Homo sapiens: one gene and its partner. The protein of the gene in region 1 interacts with the protein of each later gene in a biochemical or structural test. Each region holds a gene or a part of one and is shown on either strand. Other genes may lie near its edges. The genes, in order: HSH2D and FES.

Region 1 (10,328 bases):
GAGCCCAGGAGTTCCAGACCAGCCTGGGCAACATAGTGAGACCCCCATCTCTACAAAAAATTAAAAAATTTGGCCAGGTGCGGTGGCTCACGCCTGTAATCTCAGCACTTTGGGAAGCCAAGGTGGGTAGATCACCTGAGGTCAGGAGTTTGAGACCAGCCCGGCCAACATCATGAAACCCTGTCTCTACTAAAAATACAAAAATTAGCTGGGTGTGGTGGTGGGCACTTGTAATCCCAGCTACTCCGGAGGCTGAGGCAGGAGAATCACTTGAACCCGGGGGGCAGAGGTTGCAGTGAGCCAAGATCATGCCACTGTGCTCCAGCCTGGGCGACAGAGTGAGACTCCTCAAAAAATAAATAAGCAAATAAATCAATAAAATAAAATTTAAAAATTAGCTGGGTGTGGTGGTGCATGCCTGTAGTCCCAGCTACTCAGGAGGCTGAGGTGGGAGGATCCCTTGAGCTCAGGAGGATATGGCTGCAGTGAGCTGTGGTTGTGCCACTGCACTCCAGCCTGGGGAACAGAGCAAGACCATGTTTCAAAAACAACAACAACAAAAAACTGGCTTGTGTGGCTGGGCGTGGTGGCTCACGCCTGTAATCCTAGCACTTTGGGAGGCCAAGGCAGGTGGATTACCTGAGATCAGGAGTTCAAGACCAGCCTGGGCCACGTGGTGAAACCCTGTCACTACAAAAATACAAAAATGAGCTGGGCACAGCGGCCTGTGCCTATAATCACAGCTACTTGGGAGGCTGAGGCACGAGAATCACTTGACCCCAGGAGGCGGAGGCTGCAGTGAGCCGAGATTGCACCACTGCACTCCAGCCTGGGCAACAGAGTGAGACTCCGTCTCAAAACAAAACAAAACAAAACAAAACAAAAAAAAAACCACTGGCTTGTGATTTTTTGGGCACCTACTATGTGCCTGATAGTTTTTACACATTCATTCATTGGCTCATCCCCAAAGGCCTTCAAGGACTTTTCCTTTTATTCTTCTTATGCCATTGTGTTTTTTTTCTTTTTTTTTTTTTTTGAGACAGGGTCTCACTCTGTCACCCAGGCTGGAGTGCAGTGGCCCCATCTTGGCTCACTGCAGCCTCGACCTTCTTCCCTCAAGTGATTCTCCCACCTCAGTCCCCCAAGTAGCTGGGACCACAGGCATGTGCCACCACGCCTGGCTAATTTTTGTATTTTTGTAGAGATGGGGTTTCACCTTGCTGCCCACATTGGTCTCAAACTCCTGGACTCAAGAAATCCACCTGTGTCAGCCTCCCAAAGTGCTAGCATTACAGGTGTGAGCCATTGTGCCCAGCCTTTTATGCCATTATTGCAAGGACTAGAAAGTTCATTTTATAAATAAATGTTTTGAAATTTAAGAATAGAGTATTTAGAGCTGGGCATGGTGGTTCACGCCTGTAATCCCAGCACTTTGGGAGGCTGAGGCAGGTGGATCACCTGAGGTCAGGAGTTCGAGGCCAGCCTGGCCAACATGGTGAAACCCCATCTCTACTAAAAATACAAAAATTAGCCAGATGAGGTGGTGGGTGCCTGTAATCCCAGCTACTCAGGAGGCTGAGGCAGGAGAATTGCTAGAACTCAGGAGGCAGAGGTTGCAGTGAGCCAAGATCGCGCCATTGCACTCCAGCCTGGGGGGCAGAGTGAGACTCCATCTCAAAAAAAAAAAAAAGAGTAGAGTATTTAAATATTAAGTAAATATCAAGGCCCCTGGAGGAATAAGGAAATGACAAAATGGCAAGTGAACGAAATAAACAGCTGACCCAACGGTGGTGGTCAAAAAGGGTTGCCCTGATTTCTTTCTTTCTTTTTTTTTGAGACAGGGTTTCCCTCTGTTCCTGAGGCTGGAGTGTGCAATGGTGCAATCACAGCTCATGCTCACTGCAGCCTCAACCTCCTAGGCTCAAGCAATCCTCCCACTTCAACCTCCTGAGTAGTTGGGACTACAGGCATGCAGTACCATGCCTGGCTAATTTTGAAAATTTTTTTGTAGAAACAGGGTCTTGCTCTGTTGTCCAGTCTGGCTTTGAACTCCTGGGCTCAAGCAATCCTAACACCTCAGCCTCCCAACATACTGGGATCACAGGCATGAGCCACAGTGCCTGGCTGCCTTGGTTTCATTAAACACCAGAGAAATGTGGCTTCAGACAGTCACTTCTGCCACCAACGTCACTACACGTTGTAGCCACTCATGGCACACCTACGATATGTCAGATGCATCATTAATTCACACACTTTCTTGACAATTTTAAGCAAGCGGTACCATGGGACTTTGTGTACCAATGACAGAGCTGGAGAGAGAAAGCAGCACCGTTTTGCAAAACATTATTAAGTGAGTGTAAGACAAGCCAAAGGATTGTATCTTGCTAGATAGTTCCTTCAGGACCCCTCTTGCTCACCCTTAATTCTTTTTTTTTTTTTTTTTTGAGATGGAATCTCGCTCTGTTGCCCAGGCTGGAGTGCAGTGGCGCGATCTCAGCTCACTGCAACTTCCGCCTCCCAGGTTCAAGTGATTCTCCTGCCTTAGCCTCTTGAATAGCTGGGATTACAGGCATGTGCCACCACGCCTGGATCATTTTTGTATTTTTAGCAGGGATGGGGTTTCACCATGTTGGCCAGGCTGGTCTCCAAATCCTGACCTCAAGTGATCCACCCACCTTGGCCTCCCAAAGTGCTGGGATTACAGGCGTGAGCCACTGCGCCCGGCCACTCACCATAAATTCTGTCCTTAAACTGGAGCTCACTCCCTCCACCCATTGGCCCCATCTAATGTTTCAATATCTCAAAAGATCTTTTTACTGGGCTGTCTCTATGAGGAGGCGGGGTCTGTTGACCAATGGCAGTCAATATTGACTTTCTCCAACCAGATGTCAAGCATACCCTCTGGGGTATGGCCTGAGGGAATTCTGGGGCAACCAAAATTAAATAACTGTATTAAGAAATGTTTAATAAAGCAGGGTGACAAAATGATTAAGAGCCTGGAATTGGAGGCTGGGTGCAGTAGCTCACACCTGTAATCCCAGCACTGTCAGAGCCTGAGGCAGGCGGATTGCCTGAGGCTGGGAGTTTGAGACCAGCCTGGCCAACATGGTGAAACCCCATCTCTAATAAAAAGACAATCATTATCTGGGCAAGGTGGCTCACCCCTGTAATCCCAGCTACTCAGGAGGCTGAGGCAGGAGAATTGCGTGAATCTGGGAGGCGGAGGTTGCAGTGAGCTGAGATCGAGCCACTGCACTCCAGCCTGGGCAACAGAGCAAGACTCCATCTCAAAATAAATAAATATGAAATAAAAATACAAAACTTACAGTGGCATGTGCCTGTAGTCTCAGCTACTCAGGAGGCTGAGGCAGGAGAATCATCTGAACTCGGGAGGCAGAGTTTGCAGTGAGCCAAGATCGCACCACTGCACTCCAGCCTGAGCAACAGAGCGAAACTCTGTCTCACAAAAAAAAAAAAAAAAACCCCAAAAAAAAAACCCATCACCACCAACAACAAAAAAAGAGCCTGGGACAGGTGCGGTGGCTCATGCCTGTAATCTCAGCACTTTGGGAGGCTGAGGCAGGCAGATCACGAGGTCAGGAGATTGAGACCATCCTGGCTAACATGGTGAAACCCCGTCTCTACTAAAAATACGAAAAATTAGCTGGGTGTGGTGGCGGGCGCCTGTAGTCTCAGCTACTTGGGAGGCTGAGGCAGGAGAATGGCGTGAACTCGGGAGGCAGAGCTTGCAGTGAGCTGAGATCGAGCCACTGCACTCCAGCCTGGGCGACAGAGCAAGACTCCGTCTCAAAAAAAAAAAAAAAAAAAAAAAAGAGCCTAGAATTCGACCCAGATGGCCTGGGTTCAAACCCTAGCTCGCCCACTTAGCCGCTGTGTGACCTCAGATAAGTCACTTAATGGCTCTCTGTCCCTGTATTTCTGTCTTTAATTTGGGAATAATGATATTTACCTAGGAAAGTTTAGCTAGCACTGTGTATATATAGAGATATATATACAATATTCATGAATCCAGTTGTGACCTATCATGGGGTAATGTTTACAGGCTTATTCTTTTTTTTTACTTGGAAGAGCTCCTATTTATCCTTCAAAACCCAGTAAAAATGTCCCCTCCTCCAGGCAGCTTTCCTGCATCTCCCCCCAGACAACACCCTGGCACCCCTCTCTGTCCCCAACGTTCCCCCCTGTTCCTCTCTCTGGTCCAGCCATGACTCCATGGAGCTAGAGTGTCTTTATCTTGCTCTGTCTCCACCAGCCTGAGGGCCTCCTAGGGATCAGGGCTTAGGGCTAGGTTCCTGTGTTGTTGTTTTTTTCTGTGTCCTGGTGCTGGCCTGGCACAGAGGAGGGTGCAAGGGTCTTTGCTGGTGAACAGCTATCTAGTGATGAAAGACCGCATGCTCAAATTCAAGCTCCTGACCCTGGCCTGGGAGCCTCCTCTACTTCCCCGCTACCCACATTCTAGACCTAAAGACATCCTTGCTCTCTCTCTCTTGCCTCTCCATACCTTTGCTCATGCTGTTGTCTTGCCAAGACCCCCTTTTCCCTAACTCCAGCTCCATTTTCCATTTGTGGTCACCACAAATACCCCCTCCTCCACGAAGCTCTCCCCCATGCCCCTAGAAAATCCCTCCTGCCACCCCAGGCCCCACTAGCCCTGTCCCTCCTTCTGGCCTAGCCCAGCCCCCACGTTCTGTCTCCTCGAGGGCTGAGGCTCTTGGGTCACATACCTGGGAGACCCTTGGATGGCCGAGGCCCTCGCTGTAGCTGTGCCAGTGCCTGCAGGAGCCTGGGTTTCGATTCAAGGTCTGCACGTCAATGGGGCGGGGCTGGCTGCCCCGAGGCAGTTCCTGTTTCCTCAAGCAGGTGAGCCCTGGGGGCGGAACAAGGACAGCTCAAGTCACCCTGTCTGCAGTCCAACAAAGCATCTGGTGCCACAGGTGCAGAGACAGCTTGCTCCTGTCTTGCCCCCAGCAAGTTGTTATTGAGCACCTACTGTGTGCCTGCTGTTTGGAGGACACAGGGGTGACACGGAGACAGGTGCAGGCCCCCTGACTCCTGGCATCTATAATCTATCAAGCAGTGAAGAGGAGTGAGACATCATTACAAAGGGAGAACGGGGAACGGGTGCGGTGGCTCACACCTGCAATCCCAGCACTTTGACAGGCTGAGGCAGGCGGATCACTTGAGGTCAGGAGTTTGAGACCAGCCTGGCAAACATGGCAAAACCCCGTCTCTATTAAAATACGAAAATCAGCCGGGTGTGGCGGCGCACGCCTGTAATCCCAGCTACTCAGGAGGCTGAGGCACAAGAATTGCTTGAACCCGGGAGGCGGAGGTTGCAGTGAGCAGAGATCGCACCATTGCACTCCAGCCTGGGCAACGGAGTGAGACTCCTTCTCAAAACAAAAACAAAAGCAACAAAGGGGGAACAGAAACTGGGCGCGGTGGCTCACGCCTGTAATCCCAGCACTTTGGGAGGCCGAGGCGGGTGGATCATTTGAGGCCAGGAGTTTGAGACCAGGCTGGCCAACATGGTAAAACCCTGTCTCTACTAAAAATACAAAAATTAGGCGTGGTGGCGGGTGCCTGTAATCCCAGCTACTCAGGAGGCTGATGCAAGAGAATCGCTTGGACCAGGGACGCAGAGGCTGCAGTGAGCCGAGATCACGCCACTGCACTTTAGCCTGGATGACAGAGGGAAATTCTGTCCCCCGCAAAACAAACAAACAAAAAAACACCAGCTGGGTGCGGTGGCTCATGCCTGTAATCCCAGCACTTTGGGAGGCCAAGGTGGGCAGATCATTTGAGGTCAGGAGTTCGCGACCAGCCTGACCAACATGGAGAAATCCCGTCTCTACTAAAACTGCAAAATTAGCCCGGCGTGGTGACACATGCCTGTAATCCCAGCTATTTGGGAGGCTGAGGCAGGAGAATCGCTTGAACCCGGGAGGTGGAGGTTGCGGTTTGCTGAGATCTCACCACTGCACTCCAGCCTGGGCAGCGAGAGTGTAACTCCGTCTCAAACAAAACAAAACCAACGAAAACCAAACAAAACAAAACAAAAAAACAAAAAACCCCAAACAAACAAAAAAATCCAAAGGGGAAACAGGAAGTGGGAACAGCAGTTGCACAAACCCACAGAGGTGACCTAACTGACGTGAAGGAAGGGGCATTTGAGGGTGAGAAGGAATCATCTTGATTTGGGGAGTGCGTAGTGCAGAAAGAGTATATTTTTTTGTAGAGATGGGGTCTTGCTATATTGCCCAGGCTGGGGGAGGGAAGAGCAGGCACAAAGGCCTTGAAACTGAATTGAGCCTGGACAGGCTGGGGTCTCATGGCACGCATAGGTCCACACCAGGACTTCCTCCATTATAAAATATTTTAAAATATTTTTATTAATTGACTAACCTATTTTAGAGACAGAGTTTCACTCTGTCACTCAGGCTGGAGTGCAGTGGTATGATCATAGCTCACTGCAGTCTTGAACTGCTGGACTCAAGTGATCCTCCTGCCTCAGGCTCCCAAGTAGCTGGGACTACAGGCACACACCACCACACCTGACTAATTAAAAAAATATTTTTTTTGGAGATGGGATCTTGCTGTGTTGCCCAGGCTGGTCTCAAACTCCTGGGGCTCAAGCGATCCGCCCACCTTGGTTCAAGTGACTCTCCTGCCTCAGCCTCCTGAGTAGCTGGGATTAGAGGTGCCCACCAACACGCCTGGCTAATGTTTGTATTTTTAGTAGAGACAAGGTTTCACTATGTTGGCCAGGCTGGTCTCAAACTCCTGACCTCAGGTGATCCACCCGCCTCAGCCTCCCAAAGTGCTGGGATTACAGGTGTGGGCCGCCGTGCCAGCTTAAAATTCTATTTTACAACTGTGTTGGCATTAAGACCGATGTGGTCCAGGCTGGATTCCTTATTGTATATTTATTATTAGGATGTTCAGTTTTTTTTCTTCTGATTTTAAATAAGCTGAAGCCCTTTGGGAAGTCCCACACAGCACTTGGGTCCTGGGTGCAGGCCCTGTGTGCCTAACAGATTGGCCAGCTCTGGCCGTGTGCTCGTACCCCAGGCAGACAAACAAAACTACTTCCTCCTCTCCTTTCAGGCAGAAAGGGCCCAGATCCTACTGGGGGCCTCCCCAAGGGCCTATTGCCCTGGCCCAGCTGGGCTAGATAACCCCAGGCTCACCCTGGGTGCCTCTCTCACCCCCCTGCTCCTCCTCGGCAACAGCAGCACCTCGTCTGCCCTCTGTGGTCAACAAGGTCTAAGCAGGAGACACGTGGAGCCCTGCTTCTCACTCACCTGCTGTGTGTCCTAAGGTGAGTTGCTCAGCCTCTCTGAGCCTCAGTTCTGCATCTGTGCAATGGGCATAATAGCCCTCCTTAATCATGTGAAGATGCTAGGAGAGGCAACTCTCCAGCACAGCACATGGAGATGAGTTGGGAGTGAGAGAATCAGGACTCTTTGTTGTGACTTAATTCAAGCAAGGCCTTTGTGTTTGCCTGGGGGAGACTCTGGCTTGGGCCTCAGACCTCATGGGCTGAGCTGCCTTGGGCAACTCACTTCACCTCTCTGTGGCTAATCTCTTTTTCTTCTTCTTTTTTTTTTGAGTAGGGTCCCCTCACTCTGTTGCCCAGGCTGGAGTGCAGTGGTGCAGTCTCAGCTCACCACAGCCTCTACTTCCTGGGCTCAAGTGATCCTCCCATCTCAGCCTCCTGAGTAGCTGGGACTACAGGAGCACCACCACCACGCCTGGCTAATTTTTGGATTTTTGAAGAGATGGGGTTTTGTCATGTTGCCAGGTTGGTCTCGTTCAAGTGATCCTCCCGCCTCAGCCTCCCAAAGTGTTAGGATTACAGGTGTCAGCTGCTGCATCTGGCCTTTTTATTTTTGAGATGATGTCTTGTTCTATCGCCCCGGCTGGAGTACAGTGGTGCGATCTTGGCTCACTGCAACCTCCACCTCCCGGGTTCAAGCGATTCTCCTGCCTCAGTCTCCCCAGTAGCTGAGATTATAAGTGTGCACCACCACTCCTGGCTAATTTTTATATTTTTAGTAGAGACAGGGTTTCACCATGTTGGCCAGGTTGGTCTTGAACTCCTGACCTCAAGTGGTCTGCCCACCTTGGCCTCCCAAAGTGCTGGGATTATAGGCCTGAAGTATTTATTTATTTATTTTTATTTTTTATTTTTTTGAGACAGGATCTTGTTCTGTTGCCCAGGCTGGAGTGCAGTGGTGCAAGTACAACTCACTGCAGCCTCAAACTCCTGGCCTCAAGCGATCTACCTGCCTGGACTTCCCAAAGTGCTGGCATTACAGGCATGAGCCACCGGGCCTGGCCTTCACTTCACTTCACTTCTCTGATCCTCCTGGGAAAGTCTGACCATCGGGGCTCTTATTTGCATGGGGTTTAGAGTTTCCAGGAACATGGGGGTACGCTGGCCCAGCTCTAGCACAGTCCCCTAAGACCTCACCACAAACGGCCCAACCTCGCTTCCCCTGACCTGCTTGGGTGATGTGGTCTCCCACAAACTAACGTCTTCCTTTCAGATGTCGCAACAGAATCACCCCCACACCCCTCAGTGTCCGCAGGCCTCGGCCCGCAAACGGACATGCGTCCCCCAGAGGAAGGAAGGGTGTGGAGGGGAAAACGAAGGTGCCCTGATGGGGAGATAACGGGGCTAGAATTCCAAGGCCCCCTCTCTCTGATACCAGGTTCTCCAGGGAGACAGATCTGGGCTTCTCAGCAGAGGCCGCAGCTGGTAAGTGGGCCATTCACAGATTCACGTGGGGTGGCTCTTGGGGGAGGTGGCCACAATGCCATCTTAGTGCTGGGAAAATGCTGGGCCCATACATGTCAGGGAGTGGGGAAGCCCTTAGGCTCTGCCAACACTGGGTTTGATGCGATTCTTTTTAGAGACAAGGTCTCACTCTGTTGCCCAGGCTGAAGTGCACTGTGCCATCATAGCTCCCTGCAACCTCAAACTCCCGGGCTCAAGTGATCCTCCCGCCTCAGCCTCCCAAGTAGCTGCAATCACAAGCTCACACCACCATGCCCGGTTAATTTTTCAATTTTTATTTTGTAGACAGGGTCTTGCTGTGTTGCCCAGGATGGTCTAGAACGCCTGAGCTCAAGCAATCCTCACACCCCAGCCTCCCAGTGTTGGGATTATAGGCATGAGCCACTGTGCCCAACCCTGGACTTGATGTAATTTTATGATTTTAGCTTCCTACAATGCCTTCATTCTATTCATTCATTGATTTCACAAACACTGGCTGAGCCCCAGCTCTGGATGGGCACCATGCTAGATGCTGCAGATGAAGCAGAAGGCAAGATCGGGCCGGGTGCTGTGGCTTATGCCTGTAATCCCAGCTCTTCGGGAGGCCGAGGTGGGCAGATCACCTGAGGTCAGGAGTTCAAGACCAGCCTGGCCAACATGGGGAAACCCTGTCTATACTAAAAACACAAAAATTAGTTGGGCGTAGTGGCTCATGCCTGTAATCCCAGATACTCAGGAGGCTGAGGCAGAAGAATTGCTTGAACTGGGAGATGGAGGTTGCAGTGAGCTGAGATCATGCCACTGCACTCCAGCCTGGGTCACAGAGTGAGACTGTGTCTCAAAAAAAAAAGGCAAGATTGGCATGGTCCCCACCCTTCTAGGGCCCACAGTCTATGAGGAGACAGATGCTGAATGAGTTCACATGCAGGACAGTCAGGCAGAAAAGAAAATAGCAAGGGCAGGCTGGGTGCGGTGGCTCAAACCTGTAATCCCAGCACTTTGGGAGACTGAGGCAGGCAGATCATGAAGTCAAGGGATCGAGACCAGCCTGGCCAACATGGTGAAACCCTGTCTCTACCAAAAATACAAAAATTAGCTGGGCATGGTGGCGCACGCCTGTAGTCCCAGCTACTCGGGAGGCTGAGGCAGAAGAATCGCTTGAACCCGGGAGGCGGAGGGTGCAGTGAGCTGAGATCTTGCCACTGCACTCCAGCCTGGGCAACAGAGCGAGACTCCATCTCAAACAAACAAACAAAATCAGCACGGGCAAAGGCCCTGTGGTAGGAAAGAACTTGGTATGTCTGAGGCACAGATGATGACAGCTAAGGTGTCCAAACGGTGGAAACAACCCAAATGTCCATGAATGAATGAATGGGTAAACAAAACGTGGTTCCATCATCCACACCATGAAATATGATTCAGCCACAGAAAGGAAGGAAGCACTGCTCCATGCTACAATGTGGATGAGCCCCAAAAACATGATGCTGAGAGAAGCCAGACACAAAGGCCACCTAGTGCATGATTC
Region 2 (10,028 bases), on another chromosome or scaffold:
AGGTCCCGTTCTCATGTGGTTACATGGCCAGCACCTTCCCAGCAATGGATTTTCTGGGTCCTGCCTCTGGGCCTGATGGCTGGGCTTAGGGCTGCTCAAGGGTGGGGGCCAGGGGACGGGGCTGCGGGCTTACAGGATGCAAGCCATCTCCTCGTGCAGGTCCTGCAGTGACCGCAGCAGGCCGGGCAGCAGGAGCTGGTGGTGGTGCTGGTGGTGTAGCTGCGCAGCCCGCACGCCCAGCACATAGCGGTTGTGGTGAGCAAAGAGCTTCCACAGGCTGCGCACATACTTGTCCTTAGCCTTGTCACGGTCCTTGTCTGCCAGAAGGGGGGCAAGGGGTATAGATGACAGCATGGAGGCCCAGGCAGCCCCCACTCTCTGGGTACCCAAGGACAGGTCAGCACTGGCTTCGGATTCCCTCCCTGCCAGCAAGGGAAGCCACGAACCTTTGCTGGCCTCCTGGTACTTGCGCTTGGCTTGGGCACTGTCCCGTGCCAGAGCTCGGTACTGGCTCTTCAGCTTCTCAATGTCCTGGCTGTGGGTCTAGGGAGAGAGGAGAGGCCAGTGTGGGGCAGCAGGTCCCCAGTTGTGGAAGATTCTTGCCTGGGGTGAAGCCCTGGAAAGGTCCTGTCGTCAGGCAAGGAGCACCTGGAGACTTCTGGGAAAGCTGGCTGCTGACGTGAGAGTCAAAGATCAGAGAGCCTGTTAAAGACAGACCCCTTGGGGAGGCAAAGAGGTAGACTACAGGCTACAATGGTCCCTCCTTGGACTGACAGTGGTAGCCTGGTGGCAGGCAGGGCCAGTTGCAGGTGTGCACGGCCTGTGCAGTCACACGGGGCTCCACATGTAGAAGGGCCCTGTGCTTGGTTTCATTCTCCATTATTGCCACCTGGAAATTCCTAGCAATCTTTTAACAAAGACCCCCACAATTTCACTTTGCACTGGGTCCTGCAAATTATGTTCTTGGCAGTAGGAATAGATGACAGCCCGAGATCAGTGTTCTCGTCCCAGTTCTCCTGTTTATGTGCTGGGATATGTTGGGCAAGCGCCCAACCTCAGTTTCCCCATCTGTAACTGAGCTAGATTCCTCGACTAGATCAGTCTTTTTCTTAAAGGGCCAGATAGTAAATAAATATTTTACGCTTGTAGGCCATAGAGCCTCTGTCACAATTACTCAACTCTGTCATTGTAGTCACAGACAATATGAAAACAAAAGGGCATAGCTGTGTTCCAGCAAAACTTTATAAAAATGGGCCCACCCTTGAATCAGATGATCTTTTGGGGCGAGGAATGGGGCCAGGGTGGCCACCAGGGGCCGCTGTGGGTCCATGGCAAGGCTGGGCTCTGCACTTGAGGAAGGGGTGTGGTGCAGGGAGGGTGACCAGCACACTGAATGGGGGCACTAGGCTCCCAGATAAATAGTTCCAAATCACACAGCCTCTAGACTGAGGAGCTGGGTGGGATTCAAACCTAGGCAGGCTGACTTCACGGCCCGAATCCTCGACCTTCGGGGGGCCATGCTGCTGCCCAGTCTCTGGGGCCCTGAGAGGAGGCTGCCTAGGTCGAAGGCAAACAGACTGACCCTCATTCCTCTCCCTGACTCTCAGAACCCAGAGCCAGATGGCACAGTGTGGAGGCGAGTACCGATTCTGAGCTTCTCCCAGGCACGTGACCGGTCACTCATCCTTACACTCCCAGCACTTTGCCCAGGCACAGAAAAAGCACAGAGAGGCCTTGCTGCAAGCCAGCTCAACGTAGGGGAAGGAAGAGAGGAAGCTGCATCAAGGTTAGAGCAAGCCAGGCCTGCGGTCAGGGACTTACACTTCCCCAGTGAATCCAGGGCCTCTTGTGCAAAACAACCCCTTCGAGGCTCAAAATTTAGACAGAAATGACCGAAGCCCCAGTGCTGCCCGCTCACCTTGGTGAGCTCCTGCTGCAGCTGCTGCCACTGCTCGCTGTAGGTCTTGCGAAGCTGCTGCCGTTCCCGGATGAGCAGGCTCAGCTTGCTCAGGGGCCCTGAGTTCAGATCCTCTGCGTGCTGCCGCAGCAAGCGGCTCAGGCCCTCAGTTTGGCTGGTGATCTCAGCCCAGGACTATACAGCACAGATGGGGGAGGCAGGGAGGGGGGCACAATGGCTCCCAAGCATTGGCCTGCCAGATCTCCAGCCACTGCCCCAGAGGGCCCCCAGGAGAGGAAGGAGAAGGCAGATACAGCCAGCACCCACCAGAGTCCCATAGAGACCCACCTGACTGATGGGGCTGTCAGGGCTGATGGCCCGGCTCTGGCCCCCACTGTCCTGCAGGGACATGTGGTGAAGCAGTCCTGCATACTCCCTGTCACTCTTGACCCGCTGGGCCATCCACTTTCTCATGCCCTCCAGTAGACGAAGCTCGGCCTCCTGCATTTGCTGCAGGACCCCGTGGCCCTGGGGGCTGCACAGCTCGGAAGAGAAGCCCATAGTGCTGTTCTGGGGACAGAAAAGGGGCCATCCCTGGAGGCAAGGCAGCAGCTGGAGACGGAGGCATGGGACGAGGAGACTGGGGACTGTAGGGTCAGGATGGACTGCAGACGGGGAGGAGGTGGGGTCCTGCCTCGCTCACACGCAGCCATGGGTACCCAGCAGCAGCCTGGCCTGGGGACTGGCCCTCATTGCTTCCTTAGCGTCAGGGTCTCCTCCGCACGTTCGGGAACAGGAGCCAACCTGGAGCCTCCCTCCCCAGGCCCTTCCACCCACCACCCCTTACAGGGACACCCTTGCCCAGGTCCTCGACAGGCCAAGCCTGCCCCAGCTGAAGCCTCAGGCGCCCACAGCCTGAGCCCTGCCCCTGCGGCCATCCCCGCCCTTCCGCGGCCCCTACCCCCACCTGGGTGGGTCTCTGGCCCTCGGAACGCCTGCTCTGCCCCTGCCTGCCGCGCCCCCAGCTCCCACCGCTCCTCCAGGCCCCGGGGCTAGAGGTACCCGCACGGGCAGCTGCTCCTGGGACGGCCTCGGACCGACTCAGGCCCGGTGCGGACCCCGGCCAGTTCCTGATTCCGCGCTTCCTCCTCCCGCGGTTTCAGTTGGCCCAGGCCCCGGGGCGGGCCTGTGGAGGGGAAGGGGCGGGCGGGACCGGCCCGACCGCCCCGACGCCTGCCAGCCCCCCTGCTCCGCGCTGGGCCGCAGCCTCTAGCCGGCCGCACGGCCACGGAAACGGAAGGGAGGAGGGGGCCGGGAAAGAATGGCCCAGCCAAGAGCCGCCCGCGCCCCGCAGGCCCCAGGGCCCGGCAGCGCCCCGGGAACACCGGGAAGGGGCGCAAGGTGGGGGTCAGGAGGGGGAGCCCAGGGCGAGGCCCCAGGCAGATGCTGGGCCCAGGGAAGCCCAGGGTGTCCGCGGGTACTGAGGGGAGGCGCGCAGTCCTAGCACCAGGCCAGGGCCACCGCAGAAGAGAAAGAGGGAACCCTGGTCCCAGCCCTCCCCACCTCACGGAATTCCCTAAGGAGAGGCTCAGGCGCCAGCTTCCATTTGAATAAAATTTCCAAGTAAATATCCCGAACAGAGACTGCTTCTCGGATACAGATCCTAGTGGTTTTGTCCCCATCCTCCTACCCCCAGGCAGGGGCTTCCTGTCCCAAGGGAGACCTGGGGAAATCAAGGGGCAGGGGTTGGGGAGCGGACAGGCGTGGAGTTTTCCATTTGGGACTCAGGCTCCCCACAAGAAGTCATCTTGATTCAGTCAGGCCTCCCTCCACCTTAGGCCTCAGCCCTATAGCCTGTGGCGACCAGATCACTTCAGCCCAGGAAGACACAATAGGCCCAGTTCTTCACACTGCTGGAAACCAGGACTTTGGGAGTTTAGTGCTCAGCTCCTGAGGACCAGGGGTCACCAGCCCCACCCCAGGGGCACCAGCTCCTCCACTAGGGGCTGGCGCATCCTCCCGCCCCTTGGAGGACTTTGGCCTTCTGACTTGGGCCCACATCCAGGCAGGCAGGCCACTGTGTAGGCCTAACTGGCCCCCTATCCTCAGCTGCGATGCAGGAGCAACGGTACCACACTGGAGACTGGGCCTGGTTTGCATAGTCTGCACGTTTAATCACTTTAAAACCTCTAACATTATCTCATGTCCATTAAATAGAACCAGCAATGCTGGGCCTGTTTAAATTACAAGAAAAAAATCACTGTGCACCAACCCAGCATCTTACAAAACCAGCCGGGCTGGCCACGAGGGCAGGGGGATGGGAGAGGAGGGGGCACCCCTGGGCAGATGGCTGGGTACCAGGAATGGCTAGGGTAGAAAAGAAAAGGGGACTCCCAGATGGGAGGGGACTGATTGTCCTAATGGGAGGGGTGCAAAAGGCACGTCAGAAGAGGAGGTTTGAGGGGGGCATGACAGGTCAGTGCTTTCTCCACCAGGGCACAGTGTTGGGGGGGCTCAGTGCCACCACCTGCCCACCTCTGGCACTTGGAGAGCCAGTGACCTATGAACCCCCGGCATGGCGAGCCCCACTTGAAACACAGATGTCAGCCTGCCCCTCCCACTGGGACCCCCTTTCCTTGAGCCCGCCTGGCTGGCCCGCCTCTTCAGGACTTGGGGCTCAACTATTCCTCACTCCTCAGCAACATGCTGCAGCCCCCACACCTCAGGGCCAGGGCAGCCAGGGAGGAGCAGGGCGGACGGTGGGTGTGAGAACGTGGGTAGTCCAGCTGCTACCCCCATTAAAAATACAAAAACAAATCATCAGCATCTAAAGTGAAATAATCACAAAGTGAAAATATATCCTCAAACAGCCCCTGAGATCCCCACAGGGGAAAGCAGCATCGGGTGGGAGGCCAGAGAGGCCGGCTGGGCCAGCGCCCCTCCCCACCACCCACCCAGGGGCTCCAGGTCTGTGAGTGCCAACAGCCCAGGCAGCCCGGGCTCAGAAAACAGGGACTTGGGCCCTGACGGGAGAGGCGGGTGCAAGAGAGGGGAGGGTGGTCAGGACACCAGCACAGGGTTCAGCCAGAGCTTCGGCCTTGGCTGCGCCAGCCTGGTGGCCAGTGGTGGTGGAGGCACGGAGCACAGGGGTGGGTCATGGGACACAGGCCACAGGCCACATGCCACGTGCACACCTGGAGGCACCTGCCTTGCCTTGGTCCCTTCCTATGATGGCTGCTGCCGCCAAGACTCACCAGAGCTGGGGGACAGGGTGGAGGGTGCAGAAGCCCTTGGAGAGGTGGCCTCCTCCCTCAGATATCTCCTAGGCCAGCCCCCGACTGCCTGGATGGGACCATTATTGCTTTAGAGGGACAGGGAAGGGCAAGAGCTGCGGCCTGGGTCAGGAATCCCAACAAGCAAGGGCTGCCCCTCTTCACTCCGCAGGAACTCTGGCTGGGGCCGGGGCCGGGGCAAGCTGCCCTAAAGGTTTCACTCCTTTCTCCACATGGAAGGGGTGCTGAGGGTGGGGTACGGCCCTCCCCACGCCCCAGCTGGTCCTGGGCCCACCTCAGGTGGCCAGGTGGGCCCGAGGGTAGGATGGGAAGCAGTCTCCACCCCTCTTGCCTCCCAGCTGGGGTCCAAACCCAGTCCCAAGATAAAAAAATACTTTGGTGAATTAAAAAGTGCCCAAGGAGGGGATTGGCTTGAGGGGGTGGGCAGTGGGCTCATCAGAGGGCGCTCTGGTCTTTGATAAAGGCGGTCCTCTCGCCCCGGCCCTCGTCCTCTTCTGAGTCAGACGGGCACTCCTCCTGCCAGGCTTCAGGGGGCAGCCCCTTGTAGGAGATGAGGCCACGGTCCATGGTGTACACCTTCACCCCCCGAAAACTAAAGCCAGAGCGCAGCTGCAGGACCAGGAAGACAGTGACGAAGACCAGCACGATGAAGGCGCAGCTGAGGCCGGCCACCACCTCAGGCAGGTGTGAGGGCAGCAGCCCTGCCCGCAGCCGTTGCCCCGCCTCCACCTCCGGGGGCAGCCGAGGTGGCTGCTGCTGTGGCGGGGACTCTCGGCTGCTCTGGCTTTGCCGGGAGCAAGTCTGCTCCACAGGGTCCAAGGAGGCGTGGCTGGGGCAGCTGAGGCAGTCTGTCAGGGCCGGCCCCTGGCATGTGGCACATGAGGCGTGGCAGGGGGCGCAGACGCTGGCCCGGATGGTCTCCACGTCATTCTCGGTGCTATAGTGCGTATCGAGGACTTGGGGGGCGAACCCTGGAGGGCAGTGCTGGACACAGCTCTTCTGGTGCAGGGAGAAGCCTTCCTCGCACACTGCCGGCGTGGGAGAGAGGGCAAGTGTGTGTCAGCTAAACAGACTGTAGCCCCAGGACCACAGCAGCCCCAAGCCAAGTCACCACATCCCCAGGATCCTCCAGCCCCAGGACTGTGGTCATCCCAAGAGCCCCAGGGGCCCTAGGTCTCTTGAGACTTTTTTCTGTTAGAGCTGGGCTTCAGGACAGGCACCCGCCTTACCCCCAGACTCAGGCCCCCAAAGCCCAACAGCACCCACTACTGACCCACACAGGCCTGACTGGACGTGAGGGTCTTGCAGCCACTGCTTTCTGGAGGTACGGGCAGCCCCTCAGGGGCGGTGCCATAGAGTACGAGGGTGAACTTGGTCAGCGTCCCTGTTCCAGAGCGGGGAGGAGGCAAGAGTTAAGACAGTGCTGGCACCACACCCAGTGCTCGAGATCCTGCCAGCCCTCCACCTCGTACCCCTACCCCTCAAGTGCCCCCAGTACCATAGTTGTTGGCTTCGCTGGTGTTTTCAATCTCTAGGACCCACTCGCCAGAGGGATCCTCATCCCAGGAATGAGTTGTCATGAAGGCCCAGTCATTAAACCCATCTGCGGAGTAGTCATGTGGCCTGGGGAGGGGAGTGCACACAGCCCTGAGGCCTCTGCGGGACCCCAAGCCAGGGACATCTAACCCACAGCACATGGGCCACACACCCTTCCCCCACGCAGACCAACCCCATGGGGCCAGAAGTGCCTGCTGGCTTGGCTGTTTCTCAGTGAGCCAGACGTGCTCAACTGGGGGATTCTAGAAAGGTACACAGGCACCGCACAAGGTGGGGCACACTACTGACATTAAATGGTTGCAAGCCAGGGATTCCTGCAACATGGGACAGTCCCACAGGACAAAATTGTCCCTCCCAAAATGCCAAGAGTGCCCCACTGAGTAGCACTCAGTGCCCCCTGGGCCGTGTGAGCGAGCAAAGGCAAGCACGCGGGCTGTGAGAGGCGGCGGCGCTGGGCAGGGCGGGCAGGGACAGAGCAAGCACCTGGCTGCCAGCAGGGTGGAGCGGGTGCCCATGGGGCTGACCAGGTGGATGGCCAGGTCGCCACGGCGATTATAGGACAGGGTGAGCCGCGCCTGAGCGTGCTCCAGCCGAGTGATGTGGTTGGGCTCGCCCAGGCACGCGGTCACGGTCTTCCGCACCTCGAGCCGTTTCCCGATGTCTCTGTGCAGGAGAGCACCATGATGGTCAGCCTGGCCCAGAGGGACCAGCGGGCACCCCCTGCGACTCTCAGGTCCCACTGGCCCCCTCCCAGCCTGGGTCCAGCCCTCACTTGGGCTCGGTGAGGATGTCGATGATGCACTTCCGCTGGGGGGCCACTGTGGTCCAATTCTGGGCCAGGGCCACCATGGCGCCTGCGTCCAAAAGCCCGTAGCCATATGAGTGGCTCACTGTGGGGACAGGGAAGGTAGGGTCAGCTGTCAGGCACAGAGTGCCTTCTACCTAACTCCACATCCAGCCTGCCGGGCCAGCCTGCCCTCACCTTTCCGGCCCACACCATTGGTGGCCCAGTCGTTGGCATTGAGGTGGGCTGGCTTCGAGGTCTGTACCACCAGGTGTTGCATGTCCCGCCATGTGAGGTTCTTACTGCAAAGAAGGAAGGGAGAGGCTGGGGATCAGTCTTTTTTGGGAGCAGCTCTCCAGCTGCCCTAAGGGCTGCCCTACAGAGAGTGCTGGTAGGGACAGGGTTGCCGCTGGCCCCCACCCACTTACTTGGCCTCCAGGGTGAGAGCAATGATGCCGGCTGCTAAGGGGGCAGAGGCTGAGGTGCCCGTGTGAGACTCCGTGCACTTCTGCCGCAAGTCAGTCGTCACCTGCCAGGAAGAGAATCATATTGGGGCCTGTGATGGGTGGAGGGGGCTAGAGGAGCCACCTGCCTACCCTCCCTCTGCATACAGGCCCTGGGCACCACAGATGGTATGGGGAGCCAGGGCCAAGAACCCCAGGTCCCAGCTGCTGCCTTGCTAACTTGCCGTGGACATGCTAATGACGAGCCCCTCCTGGGCCTCATTTTCCAAAGGAATAAGGGGGTTCAACTAGAGGGTGGAGATGAATAAGAACAAAGTATGTTTTTAGAGAGAGTCTAGGCTTTTCAAAGTCTTCAGAGATGGCTCCATGGCCTCCAAGAACCTACAGAGCCCCAGAGTTCATGTTGCATGATGCCTGAGCCACTATCACCCAGCCACATGGGGGTGGAGGCAGACAGCCTCCAAAAGAGGGTGCTGGACAGAGCCAGCCAGCAGCCCCATCTCCCCAGCCCCCACCCCCAGGTAAGACTCACGATCTGCTTCTCATTCTGGTTGCCACTGCTGTAGGTCGTGGCCAGTGTGGACGAGCAGGCCTCGCTGTACCACGGCACGTTGCCAAACTGCGTGGCGCTGCTGATGGACAGCGTGTAGATACTGTTGGTGTAGCCGTCGCAGTTGCAGCTGTCATGTTCCCGGCCCCCGTTCCCCGAGGCCCAGACAAAGATGGAGCCCAGCCCCCCTCGGCCCTGTGGACAGAGTGGGCTGGGGTCATTCAAGATTGGGACTTGAGGGAGGGCTGGCAGGAGGACACTGCTGGAAAACTGGGAAGGCTGGAGCCTCATTCTCTGGGAACCTCCTGTCCCCTGTGAGATCCCTGGTGGATCAAGTATGTATCCAAATATGTCTATCTAGGCACACAAAAAATCAGACCAAGAGGCCAAGGCGGGAGGATCGCTTGAGGCCAGGAGTTTGAGACCAGCCTGGGTAACACAGCAAGACCTCATTTCTAAAAAAAATGTGTTTTTTAATTAGGCAAGTCCAAGTGGTATATGCACTCTACTCTTCTTCTGTCCCTTAATGTTTCAATAAACATGCTTTGTGTAAAGTTAAACATGAGAATAAATAAAACAAACCAAAAAACACAAGATAGGTACGGAAGACAGCACCCAACCTGCCCGCAGGGGCTGGACAGATCCCCACCTCACCTGGCTAACCCCACGGAAGAAGGCCTCCTCGGCGAGGCGGGCTGGCCCATCCACTGTCTTGCCGTCATCCTCGGGGCCCCAGCTGGCACTGTAGATGTGGATGTGGTTGGGGTTCAGGCCCAGCGAGCGTGCCTCCACTGCATCTGTCACCTCGCCATCCAGCATGCGCACCCCTGGCCGTGAAGGGGGGGCACGAAGAGGGATGCTGCATGGGTCCAGCTGTCAGGGCCCCCACCCCAAGGAGCACACCCAGCCCTGCACCCCAGGGGATGAGTAAGGGAAGGGTGGAGGCTGATGCTGAGAAACCCTGAACCCCCAACTACCTGTTTGCCTCTGCCTTTCAAAGACAAGACCCAGAGAAGGAAAAAGAGAACACCTCCTGCCCCCAACCACACATTCAGGACTAGAAAGAGTCTCTGGTTCCCAAAAGAGCCTGGTGATCAAGGATCTGCCACGTGAGGACTCACAGTGGGTCGTGAGGATTTCAGGAGACTCCTGCTAGGAAACCCTCACTCCACAGGGGTCCAGCTCTTTCAGTCTTTGACCCTTTGGGAACCCTCCATGGAACAGCCACGTGATCAAAGGATCCACAGTGGGAAAGTGGCAGGCATTGGCCAGATGGGAAGTGGGCGGGAAAAATTCCACTGAAGGGCCCTCCTGAAGACAGGGTGGCCCAGGCCCACACTCACCTCCAATGCGGGCGTTGTAGGCCACACCTACACCACAGACACCGTTGTTGGCCACCGCAGCCACTTCCCCCGCACACCGTGTGCCGTGCCTGCCAGGGCCAAGCACGTAGCATGAGTAGAACAAATGGGGTGAACAGGGC

What was found.
Region 2: of the proteins of HSH2D (region 1) and FES, one has a biochemical effect on the other in vitro, tested with the Homo sapiens proteins (one study listed by BioGRID).

What each region holds. Positions count from the first base shown.
Region 1 is NC_000019.10:16,138,192-16,148,519, reverse strand, and holds the start of HSH2D (hematopoietic SH2 domain-containing protein), read right to left. Parts: upstream 4,836-10,328; 5' UTR 4,746-4,835; intron 1-4,745. UniProt on the Homo sapiens protein: May be a modulator of the apoptotic response through its ability to affect mitochondrial stability. Adapter protein involved in tyrosine kinase and CD28 signaling. Seems to affect CD28-mediated activation of the RE/AP element of the interleukin-2 promoter.
Region 2 is NC_000015.10:90,877,476-90,887,503, reverse strand, and holds the start of FES (tyrosine-protein kinase Fes/Fps), read right to left. Parts: upstream 3,001-10,028; 5' UTR 2,960-3,000; exon of another isoform or gene 2,865-2,959; intron 2,468-2,864; 5' UTR 2,459-2,467; coding exon 2,246-2,458; intron 2,093-2,245; coding exon 1,919-2,092; intron 544-1,918; coding exon 447-543; intron 318-446; coding exon 134-317; intron 1-133. Other genes in the region: furin isoform 1 preproprotein, read right to left, coding at 5,626-6,218, 6,464-6,574, 6,689-6,813, 7,231-7,410, 7,520-7,637, 7,730-7,833, 7,960-8,060, 8,528-8,740 and 2 more. UniProt on the Homo sapiens protein: Tyrosine-protein kinase that acts downstream of cell surface receptors and plays a role in the regulation of the actin cytoskeleton, microtubule assembly, cell attachment and cell spreading.